Linked DNA regions of Homo sapiens: all the other regions are linked to region 1. Evidence: fine-mapped expression QTL. A gene starts in region 1. Each other region holds a variant in brackets. All regions are shown on one strand. Distances are between the middles of the regions. Region 1 holds the start of RNF130 (ring finger protein 130). Region 2 overlaps TBC1D9B (TBC1 domain family member 9B). Region 3 has its middle 41 kb from the start of TBC1D9B. Region 4 overlaps RASGEF1C (RasGEF domain family member 1C).

The links. PIP is the estimated chance that this variant, and not a neighbour inherited with it, causes the effect. A credible set is the group of variants that fine-mapping cannot tell apart.
Region 2: its variant is the best candidate, but not a certain one, in a credible set for the expression of RNF130 in adrenal gland (GTEx, PIP 0.54).
Region 3: its variant is the best candidate, but not a certain one, in a credible set for the expression of RNF130 in testis (GTEx, PIP 0.51).
Region 4: its variant is the best candidate, but not a certain one, in a credible set for the expression of RNF130 in uterus (GTEx, PIP 0.73).

Annotation. Positions count from the first base shown.
Region 1 is chr5:180,069,590-180,077,773 of GRCh38, forward strand. It overlaps RNF130 (ring finger protein 130), which reads right to left and starts at 2,170. Exons shown (of 9, transcript NM_018434.6): 1 at 1,867-2,170. The coding sequence starts at 2,113. RefSeq lists an enhancer at 1,844-2,551 and a silencer at 2,441-2,520.
Region 2 is chr5:179,882,055-179,890,238 of GRCh38, forward strand. It overlaps TBC1D9B (TBC1 domain family member 9B), which reads right to left. Exons shown (of 21, transcript NM_015043.4): 7 at 6,049-6,258. Among named protein-coding and RNA genes, the nearest start is that of TBC1D9B, 22 kb to the right of the region's middle. The variant G/A (reference allele first, on the strand shown) is at 4,829.
Region 3 is chr5:179,946,439-179,950,438 of GRCh38, forward strand. It overlaps a transcript of RNF130 not described here and the pseudogene LOC101060066. Among named protein-coding and RNA genes, the nearest start is that of TBC1D9B, 41 kb to the left of the region's middle. The variant T/C (reference allele first, on the strand shown) is at 2,289.
Region 4 is chr5:180,136,677-180,144,860 of GRCh38, forward strand. RASGEF1C (RasGEF domain family member 1C) reads right to left here. Exons shown (of 14, transcript NM_175062.4): 2 at 1,200-1,382; 3 at 914-1,036. The coding sequence starts at 1,376. Among named protein-coding and RNA genes, the nearest start is that of RASGEF1C, 68 kb to the right of the region's middle. RefSeq lists an enhancer at 373-872. The variant T/C (reference allele first, on the strand shown) is at 1,823.

The sequences.
Region 1 (8,184 bases):
CCTCTAGGTTAACAAATCTCCTCTTTTCAGAATTAAGGAACCGTTTAAACCTGTCAACAACCTTAAGAGATGTACATTTCATCATTCCATTTTACAGATGAGCAAACAGGCTAAATGGCAGAGTTACTTTTACAGTGTCACACAATGGACGTAAAGCACAGGCCTGACTCAGAACCTTTAATCCTACAATGCTGCCTCCCCACTGAGAGGGGAACAGGACTAATCTTCATCCATACCTCAATACACATGAGTTAGTTTCCAATACCCTTCTACAGAAACACCTAAAACAAGCTTTCTCAAAGACGGGGCTTTTGTTTGGGGTGACAGGCAAGCAACAAGTAGCTGAAGCACACGAACACCGTGGAGGAAGGATCTGAAGTTCAGACCATGGATTTGGGGTGCCTGATGGAACCAAGCCTCAAAGACAAACCACAGATTTCACAACACTGCAGAGGACCAGCTCTTGCTCCACAACAGCTTGCCTCCCCTTCCTCTTTCTACCCTTCCACGTGACCCTCACGGTTCTCTCCACCAGAAAAGAGGCTACCATTGTTAGTTGCCAGTCTGGCAACACTGTGCATCTCAACCACAGTGACTGGCACAGAGCAGGAACGCAAATATTTACTGAATGAACCCAAGACAAAAGTTGTTTCTACGGCCAAGCTGGGACCCTAACTGCCATTTTTAACACAGTAGAGATGAGATATGCACCTTAAGCACCTGATTACTGGTGTAAAACGGACTTTTCAAAGCCTAGTCTGAGTTGCGGACAGGCTACAGTAAAAGCCTTATGTGATTATTTTTCCCCAGCCAGACTGTCTCAAAGAAGAAAACAGCTTAGCACTTTGGCATACAAATACAGACCTCAGAGGGGCATAATATGTTAGTATCTTAAGAGTGTACAAGCAAATCATGACTTTATTTAGGTTGCCTACTTTAGGTCATCCTAACATGAACAGCAGTTTAGAAAAGAAAAATCCCCTCTCAGCATTCTCAGGGTGACAATGAGGGTGGGGATAATGGCAGATATCTCCCAAAAGTTCAGCGTGGGCCAAAACCCAAAAAATCATATTCCACGATGTGCAAAAGGTTTCTTTCAAACCATGACTAATAATTTAAACAAATACATGTTTACACCAAATAATCAACTAAACAAAGTCCTTGTTCATAGGAAAACATGACATTAAGCCGAATGGTTTCAAAGACAATTCTTGAAAATTTTACCTATTTCCCTTTTGGTCGGCACCCGTGACCTGAAAAGCCTTGGCTAGTAGTTCCGATTAGTGTCAGATCCTCATAATGTGACATTTTCAGGCGTCAAATTACAGTAAAACTACTAGGGCAAGAACAAGAGCCAAAAGCAACAGGGAAGATGTCCATTTTCCATTTACACCCCCCCCCCAATTTACCACTTAAGAAAAACGGCACGTTTTTATATTAGAAAAGGGCCGCATCCTTCCAGATCTAGCGCAGCCTTAAGTCCGTGATTTGAGGAACCTGCCGCTTCCAAAATACAGGCTGAGACGTCCTCCCCATGAAGTAGTTTTGCGCTCTTGCACCACCTCCTTTGTCTACGCTGTCCCTGCAAACTCCTAGCTCAATGCCCTCCAGCAAACGAGCTGCCTGAACGCAAAGATGACCGTTCCAAGTCTTTTTTAAAAGAAGGGAAAAACCCAGTCACGCTCCTGGAGCCTGGTTCCCACGGGAGCAGGCCGGGCTGTCCACGACGGAAGCCTCGACCCTGGCTGGGGCTGTCGGCCGGGCAGCGCGGGAGAGCCAGGGCCAGAGCCGGGGCCGGGAACCCTAGTCCCGCCGCCTACGCGGGATGCAGCGACCACCGCCCGCCGCCCCCGGGCCGGCACTCACCTCCGTGGAGGGGCAGCGGCGCCAGCACCTGGCCGCGGACCTCGGCCTTGGGGGAGTCAAGCCCGTAGCGCCCGCGGTCGATGCGAAACGTGAGCGGGGCGCCGCGGCCGGGCTCCTGCACCGTCACGTTGATGAGCGCCGTGTAGTACTCCTGGCTCGCGTTGTCTGCCCGTGCCGGCCACAGGCTGCAGGTCAGCAGGGCGAGCGCGGCGAGCCGGGCAGGGCCCGCCCGCCCCGCGCAGCTCATCGTCCCTCCGGCAGCCGCCGCTGCTCGCGGACCGGGCTCCGGGGCCGGCGCCTAGAGGCGGGGCGGGCGCGGCCCGGGCGGCGGCGGGAGCGCGCGCGCGCGGCCTGCGCGGGGCCGAGCCCGAGCGCGGCCCTCCTGGACGCCGCGGCCCCGCCGCTCGCCGCCCTCACGTCCACTGCCCGCCTGTGGGGACGCGCCCATGGGCCCTCGGCGAGGGCGGCGTCTCAGGTCGCACGCGGGCGTCTCTTCGGGGTCCCAGGAGGGTTGTAGAAGCGTGCCCCCTCCATCCCCCCGGGTCGGTCCCACCGAATGGGAGGCGCCTCGCAAGGACGCGGCGGGGGAGGGGAAGGGCGGCACGGGAGGAAGCGCCCCGAGGAGGGTCAGCGGAACACAAAGTCCCTCTCGCGCGGCTGCCGCCTGAGGCGCGTGTCCGCCGCCGCCCCGCCCCCCCGCTGGTCTAGCGGCAACGCGCAGGCCTAAGGCGCAGTCCCGCCCCGAGCGCATGCGTGCCAGGGCCTGTCCGCTCCCGCCCGCCTGCACGAGGGCCCGGGCAGCCGGGTCAGCCGCTGGTGCTGGTTGTTTCTCTGTCAGGCGTGATAGCCGCAGGGCGTGGAGCCCGGGAGATTTGCGAGGACGTATGGAAATGTGTGAGAACAGACTACAAAGGAAAAAAAGCCATAACTTTAAAAGAAATGTTTAAAATTAAATGTCATGAGATTTAACATTCACGTCATGCGGTTGACATCATGGATGGGGGATGTCTCTGGCCCGGACCTGCAGGGACACGAGTGGTTGGGAAAGACCTCTAGGGTAGCCGTCCCTAACCATTTTGGCACTGGGGGACGGGTTTCCAGGAAGAGAGTTTTTCCAGGGACTGAGGGAGTTGAAGTGGTTTCCGGATGAGGCTGCTCCACCTCAGATCATCAGGCGTTAGATTCTCGTAAGAAGTGGGCAACCTAGGTCCCAAGCATGCGCAGTTCACAGCCGGGTTCACGTTGCTATGAGAGTCTAATGCCGCCCTGATCTGACAGGAGGCGGAGCTCAGGCGGTGATGCTCACTCACCTCCTGCTCGCTTACTGGTTCCTCGAAGGCCCTGGGCCGGTACAGGTCCGCGGCCGGGCGGTTGGGGAGCCCCTGCTCTAGTGACTAGGTGAACTACTCCAGGGGCCCCCGGACCAGAGGGTTGCAGTGGGAACCCCCCCTCCACCTTCCGAAACGCGCGCGCGCGCACACACACACGACTCTCATTTTCTCTCTCCATGGCGTTTAAAAGATACACATCGCTATAAAGTATCAGCTAAAAGGAAGAATGGGGCAGTGCAGCCGAATTCAGGAACTTACAGGATCTTTGTGGGGAGGCGGAGGGGGAAAGTTTGGCGTCTTCTGACCAGCCAGGGTTGAGTCTCCTGTCTCCTACTGCGGGAAGTGGGTGGAGTCAGCTTTGCACAACCAAATGTTCTGAAAATCCGGAAAAGAGGTGGCTCCCCAAAAAGAAATTTGAGGCACTGTTTCCAGGAAAGGGTACGGATGCAGTGCAGGCTAAAACTTAAGATGCCCACCACTGGCCAGGCGCGGTGGCTCACGCCCGTAATCGCAGCACTTTGGGAGGCCTAGGTGGGCGGATCACGAGGTCAGGAGTTCGAGACCAGCTTGGCCAACATGGTGAAACCCCGTCTCTACTAAAAATAAAAAAATTAGTCGTGGTGATGCGTGCCTGTAGTCCCAGCTACTCGGGAGGCTGAGGCAGGAGAATCGTTGGAACCCGGGAAGCGGAGGTTGCAGTGAGCAGAGATCGAGCCACTGCACTCCAGCCTGGGCGACAGAGCAAGACTCCGTCTCAGAAAAAGAAAAAAGAAAGAAAACAGATGTCCACTATTGATGACTTGGCAGACATCCTTTACAATTTCTCCCTCCATTTCCCTCTCTTCCATCCTCTACCATAGTCCTTATAAACCGTGCCCTGGCCTATGGAGAACGGCTTTTACTTATTTACTTATCCTCGGCAAGTACAGACCCTAGGCCAAAGCAGCGGGGTCCTCGCCCTGGGCCTGGCACCTAAAGAGTGCTCTAATCTGGTCCCCTCCAGCTGGACCCTTCATAGGGCAAGGAGTCCTTAGCACCAAGGTACCCATGCTCTAGCACCTAAGACCCAGAAATTCCTTCTCCCCACAGCCCAGGGCCACATCTAGGGCCTGTGTAGGGCTCTTCCCGGTGACGGTCTCCTGCTCTTCTTGCTGGGCATGCCCTGGCCTACCCCTGCCCAAGAGGCTCATGGCCTCTACTCCTTTGTCCTTATAAAGGAGGAGTCTTCAAACTGTAAGGTGCCCATGACCCCTGGCACAAGAAACAATTATAGAAGCTCACAAGCACCACTTTGTTAATCAGGTGGGGAGGAAGTGGCTTTCTCAACCCTTCTGAATTTGTCAAGGAGAAAATTGGTTCCAGAGCACCTTTAACACTTCCCTGGCACTTGCTGATCTCCCCTTTAAATAAAGCAAGATGAGGTCTCGGTGCACAGCCTCATCACGCACCAGCATGTACGGCAACATTCACACCAGCCTGTACTTGGGAGTGGCATTGTCTTTTAAGGAAACCTCAAGGTTTTAAGGAGACCTTAGGGAGACAAGAAGTTTTTCATTTATAATAGTGATACAACGCTACCTTTTAAAATATTATGGTAAAATACACATAACATAAAATTGTCCATCTTAACCATTTTTAAGCATATGGATCAGTGGCATTAAGTACATTCACATCGTTGTGTAACCTTTGCCATCCATCTCCAGAACTCTTTCCATCTTGTAAAACTGAAACTCTGCACCCATTAAACGTTCCCCCTTCCCCAACTACCATTCTTCTTTTCTGTCTCTATGATTTTGATGATTCTACTTACCCGCATAAGTGGAATCATATAGTATTTGTCCTTTTGTGAGTAGCTTATCTTGCTTTGCACGATGTCCTTGAGGTTCACCTCTGTTGAAGTACGTATCAGATTTCCTCCTTTGCTAAGGCTGAATCATATCACATTGTATGTATATTCCAAGTTTTTTTTTAGCCATTCATCCATTCCACTGTATGTATATAATACACTTTGTTTATCCATTCATCATAGGACACTTGGTTGCCTCTACTGTTTGGCTATTGTGAATAATGATGCTATGAACATTGGGCGTATAAATATCCCTTCCTGCTTTCAATTCTTTTGTGTATATACTCAGAAGTGGAATTACCAGATCTAATGGTAATTCTATGCTTAATTTTTTTCAGGAACTGCCCTACTGTTTTTTTAATAGTAGCTGCCCCATTTTACATTCCCACCAACTGCACAAGGGTTCCAGTTTCTTCTCATCCTTGCCAACACTTCTCTACTTCTTTTTCAAAATAGTAGCCATCTAAATGGGTATTAGGTGGTCTCTCATTATGGTTTTGATTTGCATTTCCCTAATGATTAGTGGTGCTGAACATCTTTTCATGTGCTTATTGGCCATGTGTATATCTTTACACGATGCTATCTTTTAAAACATTTAAGAAAAAAGTGAATTAAAAGTATTGGTTAAATAAAAGTACGAGTGGTTTTATCGGACATGGCAGGTCTCACGGAGGATGTGTGCCGCAGTCTGGCTCTGGCCCACGCTGGCCTGTGAATGAGCTGCCCACGAACCTTTTTCCTTAATGGGGTTATTTCCCTGACTCCACCACGCACCATATTCCCCTGCCTCTGTGTCCATTTCTCAGCCTACAATAAATCCTAGGTCACCTGTAAGCCCCAGCTCAAAATCCCCTTCTCCCCAGAACTCCAGTGGGGCCCGAGCTGCCAGCCTCCCACATCCAGGCCCCGTAAGAGCTTCAGTCCTTCAGGAGGAGATCTGTCTCCCCTGTGAGCAATGTCTGCCCTCCCAGGACAGCAGACAGGGTAATGGGTGTGTGTAAAGCATGCTGCACAGAGTTTGGGATGCCAGCAATCAGAGACCAAGCGGGGGTCCCCTGAACAGTGCTACAAACCCCAGGGGGTTGCCCAGATTTCCCAAAGTCCAACTCCTCTTTCTCCTCCTCTTCCTTTTCTTTCTTGAATGGCACATAATCCCCACTGGTCCTAGGAAGGCCCTGCTCTTGTTTCATTATTAACATGCTCCCTTTTATCACTATTTCTCACTCCCATTCCTTGACCCATAGGGAACCATTTTAGTGTGCCTCATGCGTCTCTTTTGTTTGTGTTCTTGCAAAATGTGTGTTGTTGCTTAATGTGCCTGTGCTTTTTAATTATTAAACTGTATTGGGTTATTGATGTCATTCTGTTTCTGATCCTCTTCACCCAGCACTATATTGTGTTTTTTTTTTACTTCTTTCATACATTTATTGCTTTTTTATATTGCAACATAACATACATAAAGTGCAAAAATTTTATGTTTACAACTCAAAACGTCTTTTATGAGGCGGAAACACCCTTTACCCATTATCTAGATGAAGATGGAGAACATTACTAGCACTCCTGAAAGCTTCCCTGAGCTGCTCCGTCGTGAGCACCCCACCATTCTGATTTCTTTTCTTCTTTCTTTAGAGACAGGGTCTTAGTCTGTCACCCAGGCGGGAGCGCAGTGATGCAATCATGGCTTCCTGCAGGCTTGAACTCCTGGACTCAGCAATGCTCCCACCTCATCCTCCCGAGTAGCTGAGACTACAGGTGTGCACCACCATACCCAGCTACTATCCTGCTTTCTGTTACCATTGATTAGTTTGCCTGTTGTTGAACTTTATATAATATAAATAGAATCATACAATATGGAATCTTTGGTGTCGTTTCTTTTTCTTAACCTATGTCTGTGAGATTTCGTGTTTTTGTGTGTGTAGGTATAGTTTGCTCTTTTTATTTGCTGTATAGTGTTCCACTGTTGATTTATCCATTTTCCTGTGGATGGGCATTCATATTGATTTTCGTTTGTGAATGTGATGGATCAAGCCGTTATGAAGCCTGCATGCCTCTCGGTGGGGATGTGTCTGCATCTCTGAGAGTGTCCTTCGGAGTGGGATGCTGTGTCATGTGCAGGCATGTATTTCGTGTTGGTAGGCACTGGCGCCATATTTTCAAGCTGCCCCCTTCCTCCCCACCTGAGCCTCTTTTATCTGTGTCTTCCCTCCCCACGCCCACCTCCTGCTCCTGCCCCTTGTAAGTCTCCATCTATGCTGGCGGCTTCCACTGTTGGTAATTATGAAACCCCACCCCCAGCTGTGGCTGCAGGTAAAAGCCCTGCAGAAACCCAGTCCAACTCCATGGAGCAGGCTGTCCAGGGAGGCTGTGTTCCTTATAGACCCTAAAGTCCTCACAGATGCTGTAGGTGAAGGGCTCTATGGAGACATCAACCACACAAGAGATGCTTCTGATACTGGCCGAGCTTTTTCACATTCACATCAGATTTGCTGAATTTGCCTTGTGAAGAATTCACGGTGGCTCACGCCTGTTAATCCCAGCACTTTGGGAGGCCAAGGTGGGCAGATCACTTGAGGCCAGGAGTTCGAGACCAGCCTGGCCAACATGGTGAAACCCCGTCGCTACTAAAAATACAAAAATTAGCTGAGTATGGTGGCATGCACCTGTAATCCCAGCTACTCTGGAGGCTGAGGCAGGAGAATCACTCGAACCTGGGAGGCAGAGGTTGCAGTGAGACGAGATTGCACCACTGCACTCCAGCCTGGGCAACAGAGCAAGACTCCATCTCAAAACAAAAGAATCCATTGAGAAGCCGTGTCCATCTAATGGGCTTCACAGAAGGCCAAGAGACAGGCTCCAGGTCCCCAGAGTGGGTCGCCAGGGCAAGCACACGGCAAGGGTATTTTGCGACTCTCCTTAGGAGCTTTAATAAGTACAAATACCATTTTTTAATTTAAAAAAAATAAACGTTCATTTTAATATAAGCTTCTACTTCAGAGCAAGTGATTTAGCTTTCAATGATAGTCATGTCACCTGCTTTCAAAAAGTGAGATGTCTTAAAGAAAACTATTTAATAAATAACAGGTAGAACACAGATGTGGAGAAATTATGCAACTGGTGTGCAAAGGACAGAAAACGGAAGAG
Region 2 (8,184 bases), 190 kb before region 1:
CTGCCTCAGGTTCCCAAGTAGCTGGGATTACAGGTGTGTGCCACCATGCCCGGCTAATTTTTGTATTTTTAATAGAGACGAGGTTTCACCATATTGGCCAGGCTGGTCTCAAACTCCCAACTTCAGGTGACCCGCCTGCCTCGGCCTCCCAAAGTGTTGGGATTACAGGCATGAGCCATCAAGCCCAGCCTCATATACCTCCCTAACCTCAGGTTTTGATTGTACTATGTCTCCATCATCAGAGATTATAACATTTATATACTGTCACCTCTATTCCTACTATCTAACCTTAATTCCACAGCTAAATATAATCAATGCTACCACCAGTCGTTAGGCCCAAGCTGCTTCCATCACTCCTTGGTTATCTGGAGTCTGTTCTCCAGCAGACTCCACAGAAGCTGAGAGAGCCCCTGAACTCCTCTGCATGTTCTTTACAGCCTATGGTCTTTATACCTGAACGTCAGTTTGGCTGGGTATAAAATCCCTGGGTCACAGCTTCTTTTATTGTATATCTTAAAAATGTTACTCTGTATAATCTCAGCACTCTGGGAGGCTGAGGCAGGTGGATCACCCTAGGTCAGGAGTTCGAGATCAGTCTGGCCAACATGGTGAAATCTCAACCCCATCTCTACAAAAAATACAAAAATTAGCCAGGCATGGTGGCACATACACGTAGTCCCAGCTACTCACGGGCCTGAGGCACAAGACTGCTTGAACCTGGGAGGCAGAGGTTGCAGTGAGCCGAGATTGTGCCACTGCACTCCAGGAGACACCCTCCCCAACCCCCAACAAAAAGTTACTCTAAAATGTTGTTACTGTATCACAAAGTCTGATACCTCTCTTGAGGAGGAATCTCTCAGGATCGTGGCCCATTGCAACCTCCTTCTCCCACCTCCTGGGTTCAAGTGATTCTTGTGCCTCAGCCTCCCAAGTAGCTGTGATTCCAGGCATGTGCCACTATACCTAGCTTAGTTTTGTATTTTTAGTAGAGACAGAGTTTCACCATGTTGGCCAGGCTGGTTTTGAACTTCTGGCCTCAAGTGATCTGCCTGCTTCAGCCTCCCAAAGTGCTGGGATTACAGGTGTGAGCCACTGTGCCCAGCCTGGAATAATTTTTTAATCTTTAAAATTGAACAGTTTTATGAGATTTTATGTCAATATCGACTATTTTGTGTTGATTTTTCTAGACATTCAATGTGTCCTTCCACTATACAAGTTCAAGCTTATTTTATCAGTTTTCCTGAATCACAGTTTCTATTATCTGTTATTCCACTGCTTTTTTCTGGGAAGGGTGTGGGATGGCACTACGATTATACGTAAGTTTGATCTTCTTTGCCTAACTTCTTTATCCCTTCTCTGGACAACTTCTTCTCTATTTGTTTGAGTCTCCTCTGACTCCATTTTTCTCCTATCTCTTCCTTATTTACCTTAATGTATTTTCATTCTTGTGTTCCTGATTTTCATTTCAGAAATATCTGGTTTTTTTTTTCTTATTTCCTCCTGAGTCCTGTCAACTCTCTTCATATTTTTCTGTTGACTAGTCACTTTTAACCTGAGCTTTTTAAACATTTTTAATTTATACCATTCTTTAGTAGTTTCTGTCGTTTTTCTAATTCCTTTGAGATCACTCAGAAACATCAGGACACAGTTTTCATCTGCCTGGAGGAATGTTTTTCTGGTGTGCTTTCATTATCTGTGGGAGGTTATCTGGTTCACTTTCTCCCCGCAATATCTTTGTACAGGGTGTGATCAGCATCTTTTCCTGTTCTTTCAGCAGGATGTTCTACGTACGGGCAGTTGTGGGTCAGAGTAGCTTTCTGAACTCCACAGCTGGAGAGGCCTTTCCCCTGCTGTGGTCGGTCTGTGTAGTCCTTGCTCCTGTACTTTCTGGGATTGGCCACCTCTTTCTTGTATCTAAAGCTTTTCTCCTTTACCCCAAGTGTTCCTGCTCTGTTCAATCCCAGTCCTTTTTTTCTTGGGGTGAGCTCTTGTCTTTCAGAAGAGAAGTTTTTGTTAAGGGCATGGGTTTCCCTCACATTCTTGATCTTTCCTCAGCCGTATAATACGTCAGGCAGCGATAAGGCTGTGGGTAGAAATAAAGCAGGATTTTGTGCTTCCATTAATAAAAAAAAGCCTCCTCTATAAACTGGAGCCTGAGAAATCGGCTCCCAATTTCACTGGCTGTCTCTCAGATTCACTTGTTGAGGTTTCCATTTGCTGAGTAGTCTCTTGTGAGGGGTATTCTGGTGACTTCTGGATTCCTTGGCTCTTAGGACTATCAGAGCCCCTCTTCCTTCCCGCCATTGCCTCAGCACAGCTACTGGCTCTGTGTCTGCACAGAGTCATGCCACAGTTGGTGGTCTGGCCTCCAACTGTGGTGCACAGTTGGTGGATAGAGCATAGCACGGAGGTTCCTTGAAATATTAAAAATAGAACTGCTATACAATCCAGCAATTCCACTCCAGGGTATGTCCCCAAAAGAACTGAAAGTAAAGATTCAAACAGACATCTGTACACCCATGTTCACAGCAGTGTTACTCATAATAGCCATGAGGTGGAAGCAGTCCAAGTTTCAACAGTGAACAAAACGTGGCTTATCCATACAATGGCATATGATTCAGCCTTAAAAAAGAAATCTTGAGCACGCTACAACAGGGATGAACCTGGAGGACATCACGCTGAATGAAATAAGCCAGGCACAAAAGGGAAAATACTATATGCTTCCACTTATGTGCATTACCTAGAATAGTTCAATTCAAGTCAAAAAGGTAGAATGGTGCTTGCCAGGGGCTGGGGGAGTGGGGGCTGAGGAGTTACTGTTTAATGGGTTCAGAGTTTCAGTTTTGCAAAACTGAAAAAGTTCTGTGGATGGATGGTGGTGATGGCATAGCAATGTCAATGTACTTAATGGTAAATGTTGTTATGTGTATTTTATCACAATAGCGTCTCCTGAATCTGACCCCTTCTTACACCTACACTGTTCCTACCCTTGATGCTCGACTCCATCATCTTGTGCCCCTGCTTCTGTGATGGGCTCCAGCCGGCCTCCTTGCTTCTATTCTTGCCACTCTCTAGTCCAGCACTGCCCAAGAGAGATGATGAGAGCCACAAATGTAATTGTAAATTTTCTAGTAGCCACATTGTAAAGTCCTAAAGTAAATTATTGAGATTAATTTTAACAATATATTTGACTTAATCCAATATATCCAAAATACTCGCATTTCAACAGGAATCAATTAAAAAATGATGGAGTGGCCAGGCACGGTGGCTCACCCCTGTAATCCCAGCACTTTGGGAGGCTGAGGCAGGTGGATCGCCTGAGGTCAGGAGTTCAAGACCAGACTGGCCAACATGGCAAAAACCCGTCTCTACTAAAAATACAAAATAAGCCGGGCGTGGTGGTGGACGCCTGTAATCCCAGCTACTCGGGAGGCTGAGGCAGGAGAATCACTTGAACCTGGGAGGCAGAGGATGCAGTGAGCCAAGACTGCCCCACTGCACTCCAGCCTAGGTGACAGAGCAAGACTCTGTCCCCCCCCCAAAAAAAAAAAGATGGAGGTATTTTACGTTTTTCTTTTCATACGAAGTCTCCAAAACCCGTGTACAGTGATCTGAACACTCACAGCACATTTCCATTGGCACCCGCTGGATTTCCAGTGCTCCATGGCCACACGTGGCTGCTGTACTAGACGGGGCACCTCTAATCCACTGTCAACATGGACGGCCACAGTAACCCCATTAACACGTAAACAGGTCGTGCCCTCCTCTGGTCATGACTCTTCACTGGCTTCCCCTCTCACCTGAAGTCAAAGCTGCAGCACTCACAGGGCCTACGGGCTTTCGGTGACTTGGCCTTCTGCCACCTCTCTGGTCTCACCTCCTACACCTGGTCAGTCTCCTAAGCCCTGGTCCCAGAAGCCCGTGCCACATCCAATCCTGTCTCCCAGCTTGCTGTGCTCTCTGCCTCCAACACCCTGCCCCAGACAGGCTATGGCTAGTTCCCCTGCTTCTTTCGAGTTTCTCCTCCAGTGCTGCCTGATCAGAGAGGTTGCCCATGAGCAACAGAGAGAAAATGGAGCCCCCTTCTTTCCCCTGGCACTCCTGATCCCCTCATCCTGCTTTATTTCTACCCACAGCCCTTATCACTGCCTGACATATTGTATGTTTATTTGCTTACTGCCTCCCTCACTGGAATACAGCTCTAAGTGAACAGGCACTCTGTCCGATGTGTTCACTGTTCTACTCCTGGGGCCTAGAATAGCAGCTGGCACCTAACAGGAATGCAATAAAATGTGTTTGGATGCATGAAGCCGAGTGCCTGGGAGGGGCCGTGAGTGGTGCTTACTCAGCTTTCAGGAAGTGTGGGGCCTCATGGAGGCAGAGGAGGCTCGACCACCCTGTTCACTGCCCCTGCCACTCAATCCAACTTCACTCTTTCTTGAAATCCCAGATGAAGCCCAACCTTCTCCACACCTTTCTTCATGTCTGCAATCCACATTGATTCCGCCCACCCCTTCCCATGCGCTCACTGACGTAGTAATTTATTTAGCATCTATTACTGGGGCAGACAATGTAAAGGTCTGCCTGGGCCAGACCACACACGGCTCTAGAGCATGGAGGACACGCACAGCCCCAGCTCCCACGCCCGCTGCCCAATGGGATGGGGCCTTTAGGGCTGGGCACTGACTTTTCTAGAGAAGCTGGATCTGTGAATTTGCATATGGACTCTTCTAATGGCCAAATGTTTTTGCAAATTCAGACTCAACGACAGCAGCAGCACATCCATCTTGTCACACCAGAAAGCAAGGAATCAAAGACGACCAGTGTC[G/A]TGCCCAGGGACTCTCAGGGCTAGACCAGATGAGCCCCTCTGGCCACAGACAGAATAAGCATAGTGATTCCAGTGGAAAGACACACATCAAGTTGCTTAAATCCATACGTTCATAATTACAATAAAAAGTAAACCAAAAAACTCACTGGTCACATGTGGAAGACACTAGAAAACCAACTCATCATTATTTTGACAACTGGTGAGTAAGAGGAAAGAGTAAAACATGTATTCCACCTTTCCTCTATGAACTGTGCCTGGGGTCAGCTTCCCTCTTTGGGAGAATTTCAGCTCCCAGACGAAAGGAGGAATGGAATGAGCATGCCGCTGGCCACTGGCCGCTGGATCCAGGCATATTCTCAATGACTGACAGTAGCATAGAGAGGTGGCTGGTTGCCAGACATCTCTTGTTGGGAATAAACAGCACCTCAAGCCTGCCCACAGGCGGACCTGCCAGAACCAAAATCAGCTGAGCCTGAATGTGATCACGGCTCTCGGTCTCACCGCTCAACCAACTTAAACAAGAGACACAGGAGCTTGCTAAACGCCTGCAGCGGATGCAATCAGCAAAACCAGACGATGAGAGACTCTATGGCACAAGTGACCGATTCCTTCAAAAAAATATTGTGGAAGAATAAACGAGAGCTAGGTGGAGCAGAAGCCCGTAGATTAAACAGATTTAAGAGACCTATCAACCAAGAGTGACATGTGTGACTTTCGTCTGCCTCAGTTCAAATAATCAAACCGTGAAAAGTACACTTGCACACGGGGAAGTGTGAATACAATATTTGGTGATATTAAGGAATTCTTGTTAAGTTTGCTGGTACAATAGTGATACTGCAGTTCTACCGTCAAGAACTTCAGCCTGAACGCCTGGCAGGGAAGGTCATGGGAACAAAGCCGAAGTGTACAGGCCTCCACAGTGTGGCTTTGCTCTGAGTGCAGCAGCAATGCAGAAAGGACAGCCAGAGAAGGTTCCTCATGGGCAATGGGCCCAGCAGGAGTGAGGAGTACCGGGTGTGTGGCTGGGGGTGCAGAGAGGCTGTGATGTTGCTGGGCAGTGTGGGTCTGGGCTAGGGGTCTCTTGCCAGCTCTGACACATCCACCCCTAGGCGGAGGCCCACAGCCGGAACCATGGGGTCAGGCTCCAGCGGGGAGGCTGATGGATGCCCTGGCTCTTCCTGGGCCCAACTCGACCCTGCTGCTCCCAAGGGGCTTCTCACCTCTGTGCTAGGGTCCACAACACTGGCTTTCCTGCTCCCGATACTGCCTGGCTGCTTGGATGGTGTTTTCTGGAGGAAGTCAGAGATCCTCTGCACCAAGAAATCACGGTCTTTCAGGTTGGCAAACAGGAATGTCATTTTGCTTTTGGTGCTGATGGACAGGGGGCTGGGCAGCACGCTGGAGCTGTCAGCTTTTTCGACAATGGTCACCTGAGAAGGTGAAAGAACTCTTTTGGGTGTCTGCATCTCAGGCCCTGCAGCTGGGCATGCTTTGTGAATGGCAGACTGTCATGCAGCTGTCCTCTCCTGGGCACAATGCAGTGAGTGGCCCAACTGTCCTCACATTCTGACTCTGCCACCCGCTGCACCTAACCCCGAGCAAGTTGCCTGTGCCTCTAAGGGCCCGTTTTTCCTGTCGATGGCGGGGAGCACACCGGCTGTGCAGGGTGGTTCTGAGGATGATGTAGTGTTCAGCCCAGCTGCTGGCCTTCACTGGCTCTCAGAAGGCTGTCCGAAAGCAGGGCAAGCAGTCCCTTGCTTGCAGGACTGTTCCCTGCACTTGTTCCCAGGGAACACTTTTTGACAGCAGGGGTCCTGGAGCTTGGCTCTGAACCCCTCTGAGGTGTAGAGGGCACAGGACAAGCTTTCAGTGGGCACCTCTGCAGAGCCCAAGGCCTGGCAGGGAGACGGACGAGGGATGCACCAGCTGAGCACAGTCAGCAGGGGTGAGTGCTGGGAAGAGGGAAGGCTGGGTGGTCCCAGGGGAGGCGGCCACTGAGCTGAGACCTGGTCCAGCCAGGTGAGTGCTGGGGAAGAGATGGGTGGGGGCACAGCAGTCACCCTGCAGAGGGGAGTAGGACTGCCTGAGGGAGGAAGAGAAGGCCAGAGAAGCCAGGACAGTGTGAGCTGGGCAGTGGTGGAGGTGAGTGTGCACTTTTTTTTTTTTTGAGACGGAGTCTCGCTGTCGCCCAGGCTGGAGTGCAGTGGTGCGATCTCAGCTCACTGCAAGCTCTGCCTCCCGGGTTCACGCCATTCTCCTGCCTCAGCCTCCCAAGTAGCTGGGACCACAGGTGCCCACCACCACGCCCGGCTAATTTTTTGTATTTTTAGTAGAGACGGGTTTCACCATGTTAGCCAGGATGGTCTCGATCTCCTGACCTCGTGACCCACCCGCCTCAGCCTCCCAAAGTGCTGGGATTACAGGCGTGAGCCACCGCGCCCAGTCTGAGTGTGCACTTTTTATGTCTGTGTGTGAACATATCCATGGGGTGTGCCTGGGCGCAGGTCTGAGAGGGGGAGAGGCGCACAGAAGGCCTCACAGGTCACAGGAGGCAGGTGGGAGAGGCGCACAGAAGGTCTCACAGGTCATAGGAGGCAGGTGGGAGAAGACTCTAGAGGACTCTAAGCAGGGTGCCAACATGCTCCCACTGACATTTCGAATTTTGCTGGTTGCTGTGGGAGGATACGCCATAAAGGGGCTAAGTGTGTTAGGCCGGGTGTGGCGGCTCAGGCCTGTAATCCCAGCACTTTGGACGGCTGAGGGAGGATCACTTGAATCCTGAAGTTTGAGACCAGCCTGGGCAACATGATGAATCCCTGTCTCTGTTAAAAATTTAAAAAAAACAGCTAGGTGTGGTGGCAAGCATCTGCTGTCCCAGCTACTCGGGAAGTTGAGGTGGGAGAATCACTTAAGTCCGGGAGATGGAGGCTGTAGTGAGCCATGATCACACCACTGCACTCCTGCCCAGGCAAGAGTGAGACCCTGTCTCAAAAAAAAAAAAAAAAAAAAAAAAGGCGGGGGTTGGGGTTCAGTGTGGTTAGGGAGTGGCTAAAGCAGATGATGGTGTCTTAGGTGGTGTCCGTGGAGAGGAAGGGCTGAGCTCTGCGGGGTGAGCTGGCAAGACATGCTGTAGGGAGGAGGGAGAGGTCGGAATCTAGGCCGATACGTGGCTTTTACCTGGGCAAAGGGTGGAAGAGGGGTCACTTCCCGAGGGAAGCATGGAAGCGGGTGGTTGGGAGTGAAATTCAAGAGTCCACTACACCCACAGCAGAGTGAGCTGCGTGCGCAAAAGCCTGCAGGCTGGAACGTGGAGGAGCAGGTGTGTTGAGGGGTCAGCGCTGGCTGGGCAGGCGGCC
Region 3 (4,000 bases), 130 kb before region 1:
ATAAAAAAAACTTTAAGGTAAAGAAACAAGAGTAAAGAAAGTGGATAATTTCTACAAATGTACTAGCGTTCTTCTTAGTCTTAACAGACCGACCAGTACAGCACACCCACCGGGGATTTTTTTTTTTTTTTTTGAGACGGAGTCTCGCTCTGTCGCCCAGGCTGGAGTGCAGTGGTGTGATCTTGGCTCACTGCAAGCTCCGCCTCCCGGGTTCACGCCATTCTCCTGCCTCAGCCTCCCGAGTAGCTGGGACTACAGGCGCCCGCCACCACGCCCGGCTAATTTTTTTGTATTTTTAGTAGAGACGGGGCTTCACCGTGTTAGCCAGGATGGTCTCGATCTCCTGACCTCGTGATCCACCAGCCTCGGCCTCCCAAAGTGCTGGGATTACAGACGTCAGCCACCGCGCCCAGCACCATAGGGGATCTTTTCATCAGCTGGGTTTGCCTTTATCTTTCTTTAGCCTCGGGCTGATCTCAGGGCCGGTTGCCACCCTAGCTCCCGTTATTTCTACCTGTTTTTTCAACTCCTTGGCAAATAAAGTACTCTCCTTACAGGATCTCAACACCTCTCTCCCTGAGGATGCACTGTTGAGTGTGCACAAGTGCACACTGACGCAACCCTACTGTACTGAATGAATTCTTCACGGAAGTCTCCATACCTGGGTTTCTAGAATCTTCTCATCACTGACACAACTGTCTTCACCATTCTTGCCTCCTGGTTTGGTGAGGCAGTTTCTACATTAAAACAGTTTAAACTAGCAATTCTATCTTTAGTAACCCCACTATTTTATTATTTTCAGGACCAGTCTGCATTCAGATGCCACCTTCCAAAATGCATGGGCCTCCTGACTGCTGCCCACAGTAAAGTCCGTGCCCTGTAACATCACCATCCAGCCCTAGGACACGTCTCTCACCCACCCCACCTGTGTCCTAAATCAAGCCCAGCACACTTCCTGGCCTTTTCTACTATCATGCTCTGCACACTAGGGGCCACTGGTCAGGACACCCCACAGCCTGCCCCTGACACTTGGTGAGCTTCTCTAAGAGGCAAATAGAATGGGGTTTGGAACACAGACCCTGGGGGCCAGCTTATGTGTTGAAATCCAGCCTCTGCTACTTACCAGCAGGGCAACCTTGGCAAGTTACTGGATTTCTCCAAGCCTGTTTCCTCATCTGTAAAACGGAGTTAATAAGAGGGTTGTTGCAAGGATTTAATGAGTTAATGCAGCAAAATGCTTCAAAGAGGACCTAGCATGCAGTTAAGCACTGTATGTGTTAGCTATTATTATTGTACACTATTATCAAACAAAAGTATATGTGTGTATATGTAAGTATATAGTAGGTATACATTGATATAGCATATATATACTGCATATGGTATATATATACCTACACAATATGCTATTATATATTATACATACAGTATATCTATATACACAGACCATATATGCATGTAAGAATATGGGTGTGTATGTGTTTGTGTAGCTCAGCCCTCAAATAGCTACCTCCATTCACTTCCCCCGTTTTCACCCTGAGACTCTGAATTGCTCTAGGGTGCAGGCTGTGCACATAGTAGGTCCTGGTCTAACTGTCTCCAGGCTGGAGGGTATAAAGTAGTTGGGAGCATTGACTCTGGGCTGCCTGGGTCTCATTCTGACTTTGCCCCTTAGCAGGTGAGTGAACTTGGGCAAGAAACTTGAACCTTTTGAACCATCAGTTTTCTTCACTTGTAAAACAGAAAACCAACTATATCTTCTCTCATTCAGATATTGCGAAGATTAAAATGGTTATACATGTGAACAACTCAGCATGCTACCTGGTACACCCTAAGTGATCAGGAGCCCCTGGCAACAGTTAACAGTTTCTTCCTGCCCAGCTTCATGGCAGACCTGGAATGGTGGTCTCTGTTTCACCGGGACTCTATTCTTTGTTCTGTTTGTTGCTCTTGGCCTGGTGCATTGGCTCATGCCTGTAATCCCAGCACTTTGGGAGGCTGAGGCGAGCGGATCACCTGAGGTCAGGAGTTTGAGACAAGCCTAGCCAACATGGTGAAACCCCCATCTCTACTAAAAATACAAAAATTAGCCAGGCATGGTGGCAGGCGCCTGTAATCCCAGCTACTCAGGAGGCTGAGGCAGAAGAATTGCTTGAACCCAGGAGGTGGAGGTCGCAGTGAGCCGAGATCACGCCACTGCATTCCAGCCTGGATGATAGATAGAGCGAGACTCTGTCTCAAAAAAAGAGAGAGAGAGAAAAAAAGAGTCTTGATAAGGAACTTGGCATAAC[T/C]AAATAATTTGGAAGATAAAAAGTCAAGGAAGCTTCAGGATCTTTTACCAATTATTTTTAAAGTCTAAAGTGACAACCTAGCTAGCCAATGAGAAATGTGATTTAATGGACTTATCAGGCTAAGACTGCCTTAAGCTGCTGGGTAGAATCAGGGGCACTTGCTTTCCCGTGGAGGGTCTTCAGGTGACGTTCTTATCAACTTCTGACCAACCTGGCCAATGCTTCCTTGGAATAATTTTTTTTTTTTTTTTTTTTTTGAGATGGAGTCTCGCTCTGTCACCCAGGCTGGAATGCAACGGTACCATCTCAGCTCACTGCAACCTCTGCCTCCCGGGTTCAAGGGATTCTCCTGCCTCAGCCTCCTGAGTAGCTGGGATTACAGGCATGTGCCACCACGCCCGGCTAATTTTTGTATTTTAGTAGAGATGGGGTTTCGCCATGTTGGCCAGGCTGATCTCGAACTCCTGACCTCAGGTGATCTGCCTGCCTTGGCCTCCCAAAGTTGCAGGGATTACAGGCATGAGCCACCGTGCCCAGACAATTTTTTTTTTTTTTTAAGACAAGGTCTTGCTGTGATGCCCAGGCTGGAGTGCAGTGTTGCAACCATAGCTCACTATATCCTTGAACTCTTGGGCTCAAGTAATCTTCCTGCCTCCTGAGTAGCTAGGGCTTATAAGAACAAGCCACCATGTCCAGCTAATTTTTAATTTTTTTGTAGAGATGGGGTCTTGCTATGTTGCCCAGGCTGAAAATACTCTAGAAAAATACTTTAAAAAAAAAAGAAAGAAAAAACAAAGACAAAACAACCTGTCTCTTGCATTACAAAAGTTTGTCCAAGAAGGGTTTAAAACTCTGAAATACCAGATTAAATTTTAATCTCGAATTTTTTAAATAGTAAACAAAAATTATTCAACTTTATACATTGCTTCTATTTGTAAATCTGACTTCTTAGTTGTGTGAAATTAAATAACTCAAAGCTGTTGTAACTTTAAGTTATCCTGAGACTTCAGAGGAATGTGGCTCTGCAGCCTGCGTCGCTTGGCACGCAGCTGCAACTTCTGCCTTTCAGAAATGCTGTAAATAATTAAGACCAGAGATGAGACCCCTCAGATCACCACCCCTCCTCAAGGAGCAATCTGTAATCAATCGGATCACTGTAACATACTCACTAGCCTCACGTGGAAAATGGTATAATCTTGCTAAAACTTCTGTCTCTGCCTATATGATACTTTAACTTCTCCAGAGTGGAACACTGACCCCATTTGTTTGAAGCTGTTTTCCTGGGTGGCCATCCTCCAGCTCTGTGCTTGAGCAAACTCTATACTTAATGATATTTTCTGAATCTCATTATTTAAGGTTGACAGTTGATAGCATCATGCTTATTAAATAACTTTTTTTTTTCTTGAGATAGAGTCTCACTCCATCCTGGGTGATGGAGTGAAATGGCATGATCTCAGCTCACTGCAACCTCTACCTCCAGGGTTCAAGCAATAGACTCTCCTGCCTCAGCCTCCCAAGTAGCTGGAATTATAGGCACCTGCCACCACGCCTGGCTAATTTTTGTATTTTTAGTAGAGATGGGGTTTTGCCATGTTGGTCAGGCTGGTATCAAATCCCTGGGCTCAACTGATCCACTTGCCTCAGCCTCCCAAAGTGTTGGGATTACAGGTGTGAGCCACCCCACCCGGCCTAAATAACTGCATTTTGATACT
Region 4 (8,184 bases), 67 kb after region 1:
GGGAGAGGAGGGGGGACGGACACATTTCTGGGCAGGGCCATCTCTTGCTCTGGCCTTTCTGCGGTTGACGGCTCCATCCTCCCTGGTGAGTCTTCGCGCTGCGGGGAGTGGGGAGTCCTCAGAGCAGGGGACCCTGCCCCAGGGGTGGGTCTAGGTCTGTGCCGACCAATCAGAGCAGGCATACGCCATCGTGCACAGTGATTGGCTCACAGGTGGCCACGTGACCTAGGATACGCCAATGAGGAGACTCACTGGGCCAGTAGAGAAAAGGAATTGAGGCTTCCACGTGACCGGAAAGGGTGGTAGGTGAGCCTGGTGCGGTGGAGGCGGCCAAGCGCCACACCAGCCAGCCCGAGGGAGGCCAGCCCCGGGAAGCGGCAGCAGAGGGCGGGAGGGAGACAGGCCACGGTGCAGTGCTGTGGTGTGAGGCCCGAGCCAGCGGTCCCTGAGATAGGGCAGGTACACGGGCCAGCTAAGTCCTTTTGGTTCAGGCGGGTTGAAGTTGGGTCTCTCCCACTAGCGGTAGAGCCCTACCGACGCGTGTGCAATAGAGGCAGCCCGCAGGACCCGGCCAGGACTGGGAAGGTGGAGCGGATGTGCTGGGGGAAGGAAGCCCACCAGAGGCAGCAGGCCCTCCCGGCCACAGATGGGTCCTACTGACCGGGCTCCGGATACTCAGGTCTGGGCTTAATGGGCTCAAGGGTTCCCGTCGGGCACTGGAAAACTACATGGAGGTTAAAGGTCCTGTTCTGCTCCTTCTGGCTCTGGGCCTCAGACAAGGTGGAAACACCCGGTAGCCACCTTGTCAGGAAAACGGGGACAATCATTGCCTCCCCGAGAGGCTGATGCGTTGAGGGCATGGCAGGGCAGTGCTGGTACACTCTGAGACCCCCTGGCCTGCCCTCCGCCTCACCTTGTCCAGCACCGGCTTGTCCAGCTGCTGCTGCTCGATGCACAGGTGGCAGACCCGGGCCAGGAGCTCCCGGGGCTCGATGAAGAGGCGAGAGCTCAGCAGGAAGGTGAAGATGTAGGCTTTCTGGGGGACACACGAGAAAGAGGGCACAGGCTCAGGAGGGCACCAGGAGGGGCATGCTTCCCAGCTGGCCCTGTACCCTGGCCCAAGGTCACGCCCAACCCTGATGCCCCCCGTGCGTGGTGGAGGAGAGCCCACTCTCCTGCCCGCTGGGTGGATCACCCACCTCGGGGTAGTAGTCGGCTGTGGGCACCAGGTGCTGGATCAGTGTTTCCAGGGAGGCTGAGGATGGCGCTCCATCCAGGAGGGGCTGCCCAGCCTGTTCGCCATCTGTGGGCTCGGTGGGGGGTGGGCTGAGGCTGCCTGGGGTGACCATGTCGGAGGCACTCAGCGTCTGTGGCATGTCTGCCTGCAATGGCAAGGAGCAGTGAGGACCTGAGTGGGGGCACACCTGAGTTGGGTGCACCTGAGTGGGAGCTGCTGGTCCCGGGGCTCCTGGCTGGGCAGGCTCCCCCCACAGCCACTTTGTGCCAGCTTGAGTCCAGTGGTCACTTCCTGGGAGTATTGTCAGGGCCCCTTCCTCACAGCACAGCCTTCATTCTCCGTCTTCTCATGGCCTCTCAACTCTCCTGCAGGACCCATCTCTTGTCTACTCCTCTTGCCCCACTCAGGGGCAGGCCTCTTCTAGATTCTTCCCCCCGGCACCCCTCCACGAAGGTTGTTTTTCACAAGCCTGGATAATCAGCCTAATCCCCCTGCTTCTGGCCACAAAGATTGGTTCAGGGATTGGCCCCATCCAAATTAGGGGGGCTCAGCTGCAATCCCAGAACTTATGTGGCACTTGGAGGC[T/C]TTCTTTCCCCCTGGAGTCCTTGAGCTGGTGGAATGTATGCCCGACGCTACTGGGGCCATTGTGGCAGGAAAGTGGGCACATTCCTGAGCACAGTGTCGCTGTGCTGAGCACAGAAGCTGCTCCATGGACTTCTCCATCACATGTGCCTCTTTAAGTTGGGGTTCTCTCAGGTACAGTCAAAACTGCTGTCCTCCTTAACCTGGCATTCTGGGCTCTTTGTGATTTGGACTAGCTGACCTGTCCATCCTCACCGCCTATCACACCCCATTGCTCTTGGCACCAGCCACGTTCTCTCCTCCAAATGCCTTCTCCAACTCTGAACCACTGCACATGCCGTTCCCTCCTGCAGGAAGGCTCTCCCACCATCTTCACTCCCCTATCCCTCCAGGTATGGCTGAAATGCCTCGTCCTCGGTGAAGCCTTCCCTGCGTCCCACCAAGGCTGCACCTGACCTCTGGTGGGCATCAGCAGATTCTGCTTGTCAGCCTTGTTGGGTGCCTGGGTGCTGCTGTCAGTACCTGGCACAGGGAAAGGCCAGCTGCAGCCGTTACAGTGTCTTCTCTACCCAAACCTCCAGGCAGAGGCCAGAGCACATCCTCTGTGACCCTGCTCTGAGTGACGGGCCTGGCAGCAGCAGGTGTCCATACCCACCTGCAGGGAGCCCATGCTTACTCTCAGAAGCTCTTCCACTTACCCCTCTAGGCCAGTCTTCCTTGAAAGCCCAGGAGCCCTCACAGTGACGCATCCTGGCTAAACCTGTGACTGTTTAGACAGCCCCTACATTCTTGATCGTGGAGTCCTGCCAGCTCACTGCAGGGTCTTCTATGGACTCTGAGGCTCCCCTGCTCATGCCGTCCTTGCTGCCCCGATGGCAAACCCTGACCCTGGCCTATTTCTCCTTTGCAGCACTCTGAGTGACCCTGCCCTGGGAGTAGAGACAGAGGGACGTGGTGGGTCAGAGCTGACACTGGGGATCAGAGGGAGCCCCTCAGAGGGCTGTCCCGTGGCCATGTGGGTGTGGGAGGTGCTGGGACTGGGTTACAGCATGGGAAGGGCTCAGGCATTGGTGTGGACAGCAGCCCAGACAGTCCTGGCCATGGTGACAGACAGCTTATTTTCGCCTCCCTGACAATGCTGTAAGTGTTCAATTTTCAGCCAATGAAACCGTAAAATTTCACAAAATCACCTCCTGTCTGTCCCAGGGGGAGGCGGCTGAGCAGGTGGGCATGCAGGAAGCTGCACATGCTCAGTGGGAGGGGGACAGCTGCGGGATGGGCCGGCTGCAGGGTGCACGCTGCTCTGCCTCCTGCCCAGGGCCCGGCAGCTCAGCCTGATTCCACAAGATAGAAAACCTGTGAGCCTGGGAGGTCCGTTGTCTCCTGCTGGACACCTGGCACCTGTTCACCCTGCAACGCTGGGCCTGCCCCAGATCCCAGCCCCATTTTCTTGACAAGCCAGTGGCAAGGGTGGAGGTGGCTCTGGAAGCCTCTGCAGGATGGTGGGAGGTGCCATGCAGGGGCCTTTCTGAAGGAGGCCAGGAGGCTGCCACTTTAAAGAGACAGCCAGGAGGCTCCCAGGGGACCTGGGGCCTGGCCTGGACCCAGGTGCTGGGCACATGGGAGGTGGGAGCAGTGTTCAGATCCAGCTCTGCTCTGGAGCGACTAGCTCTCGCTGGAGCCAGGGGTGGTGGTGGTTGCTGAACTATTGTGACCCACAGGGATGCCCAGAGAGGGGCTGGGCTGCCAGTGGTCCTCCGACCTCCAATCACCCATCGTATCACCAGCTGGGTCCAGGTCTGGGTCTCAATGAATGGGCTTATCCTTGTGCCGCAGCCTTCAGTTTTTTCCTGTGGTTGCCAAGGGTCATCCATTCATGCGTGTATGCATGGGGTGACTCCTGGCTCCATTCCAGGCAATGGGGACAAAGCCCGACCTCAGGGAGCTGGTAAGGGAGGCAGAGCTGTGCAGAGACTGCCCCACGGGAGGCGTGCTGTGAGGGAAAGGGGGTGACCACTCTCTGTGCTCACTGCGGTGGATGTCCTGGCCCCTAAGAGAAGGTGAGGTCAGAGCTGCTGCTACCAGCGGGCTCCCCCACCACTCCCACCCCTCCCTGCAGGCGTGCTGGTGCAGACAGGCCAGGTGCCCACCTCTGGCCTCTGCATGAGGACAGCTGGGGACACAGAGGACACTGCTGCTCCTCCATCCGCCAGGGACAGCCAGCTCCTCCTCCCTCCAGCAGGAGCTCCAGCCTGCCTGGAATGGGCTGGGTGAGGGTGGCTGCACTGAGGGCTGACGGCAGGATGCAATCGGCAGAGAGACATGCCAGACAGACTGACCAGCATGTGCAGAGGCTCGGCGGAGCGGGGGGCAACGTGGTGTGATCATGGGAGTATATGCTTAGGTGTCAGGAGCCAGGCAGTGGCTCCTGGAAGTGTAGTGGGGAGTGACTGAGTTGGGGTCAGGGAGTGTGCAGAGTGATCAGAGCATCACGTTCCTTGTGTGCAAAAACAGCCATGTAACGAGGGTCCCTCGCTCCACCTGTAAGTGACGCTTTTATTAGTTTCTAGTCTTTCTGTAGCTTCTTTACGCAAAGACAAGGACATGTAAACACATAACCCCTTTTCTGTCTGTATTACACAAAAAGGTAGCATACTGTCCACACTCCCCCGCACTGGGCTTTCTTCACTAACAATGCGTTTTGAGGACCTTTCCATGGCAGGGCAGGGCTGCCTCATTCATTTTTATAAAAATTGCCTCACAATATTCCATTGTTTGGATGTCCACAAATAATTTTTAAAAAGAAATGAGGCAGCAGCCCAAGCGTCCATCAGTGACGAATGGATGGAGAAAACGCCTCTCCACACAGTGGGGCAGGAGTCAGCCTCAGAGAGGAAGGAGGTTCTGAGCCTGCGGCAACACGGATGACCTTGAGGACGTCATGCTAAGTGAAATGAGCCTGACACAGAAGCACAAACACTGAGTGACCCCACTTGTGGAGGCACCTACAGTCATCACGTTCACAGAGGCAGACGGTGGGACGGCGAGTGCCAGGGGCTGGGGGTGGGACAGGAGAACAGAGTGTCACTTGTGAAGAAGAAAAGATTTCTGGAGAGGGATGGAGGTGACAGTTCCACCACGATATGAAGGTACTTAATGTCACTGAACTGTCACTTAAAAAGGGTTAAAATGATACATTTTATGTTATGTGTATTTTATCACACTTTTTTTTTTTTTTTTTTAAACAGAGTCTCACCAGGCTGGAGTGTAGTGGCACGATCTTTGCTCACTGCAGTCTCCACCTCCCAGGTTCAAGGGATTCTCGTGCCTCAGCCTCCCAAGTAGCTGGGATTACAGGTGCCCACCACCACACTCAGCTAATTTTTGTATTTTTGGTAGAGACGGGGTTTCACCATGTTAGCCAGGATGGTCTCGATCTCCTGACCTCATATCACACTTTTTAAAAAAGGCAGTGATGATGGGACAATTGTTTATTGTTACAATATCTCTCAGAAGTCTTGAAATCACTGTTAAGTCTCCCATCTGTGTTTTGTGCACGTGGCCTGAATGATGCACGTGACAAAGGGGCTGGGAGTCTTGGGGGCTGCATAGATGGGCTGTCAGCATGAGGGGCTCAGCATGGATGGGGAACGTTCTGCTCGTACCCTGTAGAGAGACCTTTCCATTTCTCCCTCTGTCTGCCTCGTTGGGACGTGGGGCTCGGTGTGTGTGAACTAGATATATGCACGGTGTGGCTGCTCCCGTGGGGTTCCGCTTCCTACCCATGAAATGAATGAGACTTAATTAAATGCCCAGTGCTGGCAGGCATGCAAGGGCAGCCCCTTACACACCACTGCGGGGAGGGGTGGTATGCGTTGTCATGGTCCCTTTAATTGTACCAAGATTTGGCTCAATGTACCAAGAGCGTTATGTTCTATAGCGTCCTTTCATCCTAATCAAAGCCTTGGAAATGTATCCTGAGAAAATAAAGGGGACAAGCTGTGGAAAGAAAGGCCCTTGCTTCAGCATTAAATCCCAGCAGCGAACACTCTCGAGCAGCACAGATGGCAAACAAAGGGAGCATGGACGGGGAGGTGCACAGACGCACTGGCGGAGTGGCTGTGGCCGCTGCAGTGATGGTTCTGAACACACGGTCATAACACAGAAAACAGTGTGGCACAAGGAGGGGAAAACAGCAGGAGAGAAAGGTGCGGATGGTGGGAATGACATTCACGTGGATGAAGACTGCAGTGAGGCCCTGAGAAATGAGTCGCTGCTGTGCCCTCCTCGCACCCCATCGTTTTAGAGTCATTCGTCCAAGCTGAAGTCCACTCATCAGAGGATGGCTCTGGGAACACCTGAACTGATTCCAGGCCTGGAATGGTGAGGCTGGGGGCACGTGCCCCCGCTGTGGCAAGGGCACTGACAGGACACTGAGAGGAAATGCCTGGCTCTGGCACACAGCCCCAAGTGGCTGAGGCATGAGCTTCTGCCTCGGTTTCCCTCTCCATGGCTCCTGTCCCACTGCCTGGCCCCCAGCCCCTCAGGCATCTCTCCTTGTGTGTGTCTCCAGGCCCTGCACCTGGAGGTCCTGGGGCTCCTGCAGCAGTTCAAGAGACAGCAGGCGAGGATTGTGTGGGGTCAGGTCTGCAGAGAGACAGGCAGACAGGGGACAGGATCCCACGTGCCACCCTGCAGGGGGGCACTCTGATGCCTGCCAGCACCCAGCTGGGCATCCTTCCTTCTGGAGGCCTCACTGACAGGCTCAGGGCCCACCCTGCTCCAGGCCGCTGGCGCTGGCAAAGTTTCTGGGACAGCATGGCCCCAGCCCAACCCCTCTATGGGAGACGGGAAATGTGTGCAGGGACAGGGGCACCATGTGGTGCGTTTATAAGGAAGGCCAGCCCTGAAGATGGATGTGCATTCTCCTGCTATTCCAGTGGGTGCTGGAAAGAGGTAATGGTCACCTGCCCCCAGCCAGTTGAAAACGTGCCCAAGGGCCCTGCTGTTCCTCCTCAGCGTGGGGCTGGCAGAAGGTGGGCCGGCTGTACCAGTGAAAACCCACAAGCTCTGCTGTGCTCTGGGAGCTGGCGTGCTCAGACCTTCCTGGTGTAAAAGTCATCCAGGACATCCAGGACTCCTGACTTACGTTTCATATTGTGATTGTAAGGGTGGCAATTAATTCTATTTTTTTAAAAAGCCACTGATGGGGCCACACAGTGAGTTAAAGCACAGTTAGAAATGACATCTGTAGTGCCAAGGTGGTCAGTTTACAGACCCTGTTCCTGCTGGGGTCCCCACATCCCTCAGCATGGGTGGCTGGCATTAAACATCTGCAAAATGGAAATCCATCGAACTTGCAGAAGAAAAGCAGGTGGCTGGTCAGAGCGCGTCCTGGGGGCTGGAGGGATGTTCTCCCTGGGCCAGGTGTGGCAGAAGGGACAGAGGTAAAGAAGGCTCCCGAAGGCCCCTGTGAGGACCACGCGCGTGTCTCAGGAAGACACCTGTGAGCTCTGAGAAGAGGGAGCAGTCCCCCTCTTCAGGTTATGGAGACTGGTGCACGAAGTACCTCGCACAGTGCCTGCTGTGGAGAAAGGACCCCCAAGGCCAGCACTCGCCACGGGGAGCTCGCCACCTGCTAGGGCCAGACCACAACACAGGCAGCAACTGCTGTTAACCAAGGCTCTGTGTGTGCCAAAAAGACTTGCCAACTGCACCGCCATGGTTCCCCATGGCTTCTGTGCTGGCTGCAGCTGGGGCGACCCTCTACCTGCCCATCCAGCCCTGCAGCTGAAACCACGTCCCAACAGCTGCTGGAAATGGTCCCACTGCTTTAGCCTCAAAGGCTGTGGTGGGTCCACGGCCCCAAATCAGAGCCCTTTCTGCCCTTGCTTGAATATGTGCAGAATTTTACACATTTACACATTCTCAAGAGTTTGAGACCAGCCTGGGCAACACAGTGAGACCCTCATCTCTAGAAAAAGTTTTTAAAAATTAGGTTGACGTAATGTCACACACCTGTAGTCCGAGCTACTTGGGAGGCTGAGATGGGAGGATTGCTTGAGCCCAGGAATTCAAGGCTGCAGTGAGCTGTGACTGCACCACTGCACTCCAGCCTGGGTGACAGAGCAAGACCCTGCCTCTACCAAAAAAATAAAAATTAAAAAAATATACTTAACATAAATTTACCGTGTAAAGTTCAGTGGCATTAAGTACATTCACACTGTTGCACAAGCATCACCACCGTCCGTCCACAGAAGTTTTTCATCATCAATTGAAACCCTGTACCCAGTAAACACTAACTCCCCAATTTCTCCTCCTCTCCTTCCCCAGCCCCTGGTAACCACAGTTCTACATTCTATGTA